Homo sapiens: one gene and its partner. The protein of the gene in region 2 purifies or fractionates together with the protein of the main gene of each other region. This does not show direct contact. Each region holds a gene or a part of one and is shown on either strand. Other genes may lie near its edges. The genes, in order: PGAM4 and CCSER1.

Evidence for each region.
Region 1: the proteins of CCSER1 (region 2) and PGAM4 purify together in Homo sapiens (affinity purification with mass spectrometry; one large-scale study listed by BioGRID and IntAct). This does not show direct contact.

Annotation. Positions count from the first base shown.
Region 1 is NC_000023.11:77,967,248-77,971,078, forward strand, and holds PGAM4 (phosphoglycerate mutase 4), read right to left. Parts: upstream 2,392-3,831; coding exon 1,627-2,391; 3' UTR 702-1,626; downstream 1-701.
Region 2 is NC_000004.12:90,125,979-90,130,398, reverse strand, and holds the start of CCSER1 (serine-rich coiled-coil domain-containing protein 1), read right to left. Parts: upstream 3,006-4,420; 5' UTR 2,568-3,005; intron 2,074-2,567; exon of another isoform or gene 1,914-2,073; intron 1,862-1,913; exon of another isoform or gene 1,737-1,861; intron 1-1,736.

The DNA of each region.
Region 1 (3,831 bases), on a different chromosome or scaffold from region 2:
ATTCCTCTGGGTATGTACCCAGTAATGGGGTTGCTGGGTCAAATGGTATTTCTGGTTCTAGATCCTCGAGGAATCGCCATACTGTCTTCCACAATAGTTGAACTAATTCACATTCCCACCAACAGTGTAAAAGCGTTCCTATTTCCCCACAGCCTCACCAGCATCTATTGTTTCCTGAGTTTTTAATAATTGCTATTCTGACTGGTGTGAGATGGTATCTCATTGTGGTTTTGATTTGCATTTCTCTGATGATCTGTGATGTTGAGCTTTTTTTCATATGTTTGTTGGCCGCATAAATGTCTTCTTTTGAGAAATGTCTATTCATATCCTTTGCCCACTTTTTGATGGGGTTGTTTTTTTCTTGTAAATTGTTTAAGTTCCTTGTAGATTCTGGATATTAGACCTTTGTCAGATGGGTAGATTGCAAAATGTTTTCTCCCATTCTGTAGGTTAAAAGGCTGAATTTTATAGCATGTGAATTATATCCCAATTTAAAAAAGAATGCATATGTCTTAGTTCAGGCTTCCATAACATAATACCATAGACTGGGTGGTCTAATTGTTCAAAGCTCCACAGAAATTAGTTGGAGAAGTTACAAGAGTCCATTAATCATCTTGCTTTGTTAGTAGCAGCGGGCATGGTTCAGCATTTTCTGCTTAAGTTTCTCTGAGCTCACCAAAACTAAAATGATGTTGTAATACTTTTTTTTTTTAATTGCACATCACTCCTTTATTATACTGATCTGGTAAAAGGATTTAGTACAGTTATGCTCAGATGAACACTGGGCCCATGTGGCAGGGTCAAGCAACTAGAACATGATTCAGAAATCAGTGAAAGACACACTTGGACAGGACCAAGAGGCATTTCACTGCCATGAAACAAGGCAGGAAGGGATTCTAATACACACACCAGGAAGCACTCCTGCCCCTCAGAGGTCAAGGAGCTGATCCTATATTGGTATGAGGAATGGCTTATTTTCTGATGACCACATGTGGGACTATTTCAACCGCCACAAGAAACCCCAGAAGGGTTATTGTTTTGTATTATTAATATATACTATACTTTTTTAATAAAAGTAAATATAACACATAACGAAATTCAGGATTGATCCCAACCTAGAGCCAGATCCTCTGGGGTCAAGGAGGAAACAGTTGTCACATCACCATGCAGATTACATTCATCTTCCACTGGAATGACTAGAGCCCCCAGGCAGTGGCCTGACTGCAGAAGAGCAGAGGACAGACTCTGCTCATGGGGACAGACAGGCTCTGTTGCTTCTCCTCATTGGTCGTGGCTTAGCATGTTCCTCCCCAAAGTCCTTAGTAAACAAAGCACTCACAAAAACCCAAGTCACTACTTTTAAACTCTGTTGGATAAGGGGAGCTTTTCCACAGCTTAGACTGAGAACCTGTGCTCTAGAACTGCTATTCTGACTAGATTGTATGAAGGGAGTGGGTGCAGGCGACAAAATGGCTAAAATGAAAATGGGAGCCACTGGTCCCCATCTGCAGCTACAACTCAAGATGTCTACAGATGTGGTCAGTGTGACATGTGCAGGTGGGAGGGGCAGAGGGACAAGACCAGCAGGGAGGGTGCTCCTGGGGACAGTATCCTCCCCGCTGGCCTTCACTTCTTGGCCTTGCCCTGGGCAGCCACAGCTTCTATGGCTTTGCACACCGTCTCTTCATCCCCCAGAAACTGCATGGGCTTGATAGGCTTCAAGTTCTTGTCCAATTCATAGACGATGGGAATACCAGTCGGCAGGTTCAGCTCCATGATAGCCTCTTCAGAGAGACCCTCCACATGCTTGGCAATGCCCTGGAGGCTGTTGCCATGGGCTGCAATCAGTACACGTTTCCCCTCCTTGATCTGGGGAACTATTTCTTCATTCCAGAAGGGCAGAGCTCTGGCAATAGTATCCTTCGGACTCTCATAGGAGGGTAGCTGATCTTCTGTGAGGTCTGCATACCTGCGATCCTTACTGATGTTGCTGTAGAAAGGATGGTCGGGCTCCATCGGAGGTGGTGGGACATCATAGGAGCGCCTCCAGATCTTCACCTGGGCCTCACCATGCTTTGCAGCAGTTTCTGCTTTATTGAGACCGGTTAGACCCCCATAGTGCCGCTCATTGAGGCGCCAAGTCCTCACCACTGGCAGCCACATCTGATCAATGGCATCTAGCACTGTCCAGAGGGTCCGGATCACTCTCTTCTGCACTGAGGTGAGGCAGATGTCAAACTCATAGCCAGCATCTCGTAGCGCCTGCCCGCCGCGCTTCGCCTCCTCGTGGCCCGCCGGGCTCAGATCGGCGTCGTACCAGCAGCTGAAGCGGTTCTCCAGGTTCCATGTGCTCTCGCCGTGCCGGATCAGCACCAGTTTGTAGGCGGCCATGGCGGTGGGCTGCAATACTTTTTATACCATTTGAAGTAAAAGGTACAAAAGGTTATACGCTGAAAATTCTTTTTCCCACCCTTATTCCCTAACCACTCATTTCCCCTCACCAGAGGAACCACTGTTTCCATGGGATATATTAGATTGATTTATATGAAATTGCCGGTGTTTGACTATGATGATTTCATGTGGTTCAGCCTAATATCAGTGAAAAAACAGAGTCCTATCTTCATGGAGTTTTTATTCTAGTGGGAAGTGTATTACTTAATTATTGCAGTGTAACAAATAACCCCAAAATTTAGTGGCTTAAAGCAACAAACATTTATTATCTCACATTTCCTATGACTCAATAATTTGGGAGCAGCTTAGATGGGTAGTTCTGGCTCAGGGTGTCTCATGAAGTTGTAGTCAATATGGTGTCTGGGGATGTAGTAGTTTAAAGGCTTAACTTAGGTCTGAAGGAGCAGTTTCCAAGGTGGTTCACTTACCTGGCTATTGGCGGGAGGCCTTAGGTCTTTGCTGGTTTTTGACATGAGGCCTCAGTTCCTCACCATATGAACCTCTCCATAAGGCTGCTTGTATGTCTTCATACTTGGTAGGTGGCTTCCCCCAGATTGCGTGATTCAGGAGAGAGGACAACAAGGAAAACACAATGCTTTTTTCTCCTCTTGCAATGTTTTTTATGACCTAGTCTTGGAAGTCACACCTTGTCGCTTCTACCGTAGTCTATTCATTAGAAACAAGTCATTAGGCCAGGTGTGGTGGCTCATGCCTGTAATCCCAGCACTTTGGGAGGGCGAGGCGGGTGGATCACTTGAGGTCAGGTGTTCGAGACCAGCCTAGTCAACATGGTGAAACCTTGTCTCTACTTAAAATACAAAAAATTAGCCGGGTGTGGTGGCATGCGCCCGTAATCTCAGGTACTGGGGAGGCTGATGCAGGAGAATCACTTCAACCCGGGAGGCGGAAGTTGCAGTGAACTGAGATCGTGCCACAGCACTCCAGCCTGCGAGACAGAATTGAGTCTCAAAAACAAAAACAAAAACAAAAACCAAAACAACAACAACAACAAAAAACAAGAAACAAGTCATTAAGTTCAGGCCACACCGAAGGGGAAAGGATTAAATTCCACCTCTTGAAGGAAGGAGTAGCAAAGAATTTGTGGGCGTATTTTAAAACCACCACAGGAAGGCAGACAATAAGCAATAAACAGAATAAATCAGCAAGTTATGGAGTATGTTAGAAGGTGGTACGTTCTATGAAAACAAAAGAAAAAGCAGAGGTAAGGGGAATCAGAGTATGTTTGTGTGGAAGGGATGTAGGTTGCAGTTTTAAATAGGGTGGTCAGCATAGTCCTCATTAAGGTTAGATTTGAACAAAGACTTGGAGACAAAGAAGTTAGCCAAGCAGTTATCTGGAAGAAGAAAGTCCCAAAGCAAG
Region 2 (4,420 bases):
CGAAGCATTCTCAAACAAAATCCAGTATGAAATGTTATTGTCATGTTCTGAACTCCTGTAGTACTCATTAGACATGTAATCTCTTATTGTTACGGGTTGTTAACTCTACGCTCAAGCATGAGCATCAGATTCCTCCCACATGGCAAGTAAGTTCCTGAAAGACAGGGAACAAGGAATCTCCCGTTCCTCCCCAATGCCTAGACAGTAGTACTTTGCAAACGTTAGGCCCTTTATTATGAGCATTATGATGAGTAATAAAATGCAATAAAGGGTTGAATAACTATTACTGTAAAAATATAACAAATTTTTCATTTTCTACTTTGTTTTATCTAAATTAACATTCTATGGTATAAATAATGTATCTTTAAAATAATAAACAGTTGCTGATTCTCTTAACTGTCAAAAAACAAAATACTCATAAATAGGACTTTTAATGATTGCAATAATACAGTTCATCAATTACATTTTTTAATTCCCTATTATATCTATGTTCAAATAGTTTGGGATAGTTGAGGTAATAACCCTCCGAATGGGGTTCTCCATCTGAGTTCTAACCTAATATTTAAAGCTGCACATGCTTCCGTGTTGAAAATGTATTTCAAAGTAATATAAATCTAACAAAATCAAAATATCAAATCCTTAACTCTGCTTTGTTTTTCAAAGAACAGGACTGTTTAGGAAAGCAATAAAACAATACAAACAACAGTTGGTTTGTTTTGATCAAAATAACTAATTAATTTAAATGAAGACAAATCACTCTGACAATAGGTTGACCAACTTCTCTTTTTTCTCTGTGAAACTATTGAAAGTGTGGTTACAACATGGAATTTCAATATTTGAAAAACATTGTCTTGGCAGGCTTTTAGAGACATTTCAGTTTGCAATATTAAGGATACTGTCCTACTACTAAACCCAGTCACAGTTCTATAAAAGTACAGGTTGCTACTTTTAAGAGAAAACATTCATTTTATAAGCACCGTGACAGGCACTGTCCCAAGGCATCTTTAAGTTTCAAGTTACGTATCTGGAACATGTACCTGTTATAAAGCAAACAGAAAGAGAAACCAAGACAAATTATATTATAGCCTAGATTACCAGTATTTTAGGTCTTCCCTTAATAACCAGTTTTGAAGGAACCAGTGATAACTGACCCCCACCTAGGTGTCCTCTTATCCGTTTTCCCTAAGGCTGTTAATAAAACCAGCTTTACTTTAAACGTGTACACATTATTTTTAATAGTCCTTGAGGGGCAGAGAAGGGAGGATGTGTGTTACATTTCAATAGGAAGGTATTCAACTGTAAAGATTTCAGAAATGAAAGCTGTTGAAACCAAGTAGGTATTTTCTGACTTGTAAGTCCTACTGACTGCCTGAAAAGGTAAGAGGGGTGGAGAAGAGGACATAAAAACATTAAAGGGCAAAGAATCTGTAACTTCTAAGAAGTATTTTTTTCTACCTGTAAAAATATGAGTTTTTTTTTTACTTCATTTCATATTCCATGTCCCACGAGAGGAAGGGGAAGCATAATTGCTTCTAATTCTGAGGCAGGGAGAGGAGAGAGAGAGAGAGAGAAAGAGAGCAGTTCAGGATACACTAAAAGGAAACCCCAAGAAATTTCACAACTCTTTGCCATAAATAGCCTTTCTTCTCACTCTGGATACCTCCTCCTTTACATCAGCAAGGCTCAGCCTCCACGCACGCAGAAGCACCATTCACAAATCCCTCCGTCACCCTTACCCCTTGCTGGCACCGTGTGTACGAGTCCCTGGGACACAAGCCAAAAGTCGAAGGGGCCAGGGGGCCACATGCGGTTTCAGCTTACGGCTGACTTTCTGCTCAGGTGAACCAACCCACTGGTTAGTCCAGAGCGCGCGCGCGCGCGCACACACACACACACACACACACGCACACAACCTGGGGCCCTTGACGCTCCACCACAAAGCAAGTGGTTCAATCTAAGTCGCTGCCGTTACTGCTGCCTCTGGGCAGGGTCTTGCTTCCAATCCAGGAAACTGGCGCCAGAGGACAAGCAGGCGGAGGCAAGAGGTGGTCCCGGCCCCGCACTGCGGTTCCTCCGGGAGCCCCTGGCTCCCCGCCCCCTCCTCCCCTTCCCCCTCTTCGCCGCCGTCCCCGCCTCAGCACCCGCAGCCCGGGGCGCCAGCGCTGACCGGTCGCCTCTACCTGCGGGACGCGAGTGGCGAGGAAGGGGAGCGACCCGAAGCCTGCGCCAACTCTCGCCGCCTTGGCCAGCGCTCCGCATCGCCCTGGAGCGGCCGCCGCGGCCGCAGGCAGCAAACCACGCAGCAGCGTGGAGGAAATGGCCACGCGGCGCACTGGGAGTCGCGGGCCGGTGGTGAGCGAGCCCGCCCGCCTCCTTCCCACCCCGCCCGCAAGGCCAGGTCTCTGCGCCGAGCACGCCGGGCCTGGGCGCGCGCTGCTCGCAGGCGGCCCCGACACGGCGCGGTCACCTGCCGAGCGGTCATCCCCGCGTCCGCCTGCGGCCGGCCCCGCAAAGCGGCGACGCGACGCGCGACCCGCTGAGCGCTGAGGCACCAGGGGCGTTACTACCTTGAGGGCTCCGTGCGCTTGTTAAGGCTCCTCCCGGGCACTCAGGGATTTATGTCTTCGGGGCACGGGGGTGTCCTTCCTGGTCCCCCTCCTCTGCCCTCCCTCCCCTTCTCGGCTGTTGGGCTCCTCTCCACTCCCAGTTGCACAGAGTCCAGCTGCGTTATTTAATAATCCTCCTGCTCCTCCTGCCTGCGCCAGCGGAGCTGCTCTGCCCGAGCCACCGCTTCCCAGTCAGTCATGTTGAGACAGAGAGAGAGAGAGAGGAGAGGCGGATTGGCAGTAGGTCGGCGACTATTTGTGGTGAGGGAGAGAAGAGCAGAGCAAGAGGAGGGCAGGGGAGGGACGTGGGGAGGCGCTTCCAAGTGTGTGAGTGCGCGGAGTGTGACTGTGTGGGGAGCGCGAGATCCACCTCCCCGGCAGGCCGCGCTCCGGGGCTGTGAGGAGGGCGGGCCCAAGCGCGGCCTTTATACAAGGAGGAGTGTGGTGGGCTGGGCGGGGCGGCTTGGAGGGCGGTGCCCGGCCCACTGCGTCCGCCGGATTCCACGCACGCATCCTCTGGCATCGACGCGCGCACACCCACTGCTGGCCCGCTGCTGAGTTTTCATTTTAGGGGAAGCAGTATCCCACCGTGCTGACCTGGCCTTTTCCCCCAGTCCATCCTAGTGCTTATGTGGAGTTCAAGTGCATAGGCAGGTCAAGACTAAAGAATAGGGGAAGTCTGAAGAGACGTGAAGTGACTGCGGGGATGCTGGAAATAAATGCACTGTATTTCTCCTCTCCAAGGTTCCGATGTTATCTTTTTTCTCTTCCTCCTGTAAGGGAAGGAATTACCAGATTCTTTCGCCGCTTTTCCTTCTCACCCACACAATTCACATCCTGACAAGTGTCTTCATTCCTCAGTAACAAGAAAAGAAACCTAGCTTCTTTCCTTTAAGCAGGTCACACCTCCCAGGAACCATTTGCAGCAATCAATTCTGTAAGATAATGCAAGCACTGCGACTGTGTCCGAGAGTGGAACTTGTGTTCCTACAAGGAAGGCCCTACACAATACAGGCATTACAAGAGAATCAGCTCAATTTGACATCATTTGACTGATGGTCCCCTGGAGAAAATTTGCCAGTTTAGAAATCGAAAAGACTTTTGATGCATGGTTCTGTTGCCTACATAATTTATTTTCCCCTGATCCTCTCTCCCCTTGCACTGCCTCATTTCCTTTCAGGTTTACACTAAGTACTGAACTCTTTCCCATCCATCCCCTTCTTTATCTCCACTCCAGTATATTTATGCCTTTAGCAGGCAATACAGCAAATGTAGTGCATTTAATTCTGTGTGTGTGTGTGTGTGTGTGTGCGCGCGCGCATCTGTTTTTAACCCATTCTGGTAGAATGTAGGACCATTTCTAGGTAGAAAATGCATCCCCAATATTAAGTTTGTACGCCTAACATCACCTCCCTTACCTTCTGCCCAGATTACAAGATGTTGTGATCAGGTGCACTGAGGTATTGAGAAAAACTTCCAGAAATCAAGTGATCTACAGTTTTTTCAAGGTGTGTTTGTGTGTGCGCGTGCGCGTGCGCACGCTCTGTGTAATCTAACTGGCTATGATCTAACTTCTGAAATGTGGTTATATTGGGAATAAAAGCAAGATGTATTTTTTAAATGAATCTGAGTGGTCAATGTATATTACAGCATGGGGACAACTCTGCTTTTGGGAGACAATTATAGGAAACATTTTTCATAAATTAGACAAAAGGAAGATAAGATTTAGGAGGCTACGGAGGAGGCGGCAAGGTTGACAATTCAGTTGTCCTATCTTCTTCCATGGCTTGTGACCATCGTACATCTTTAGGGTT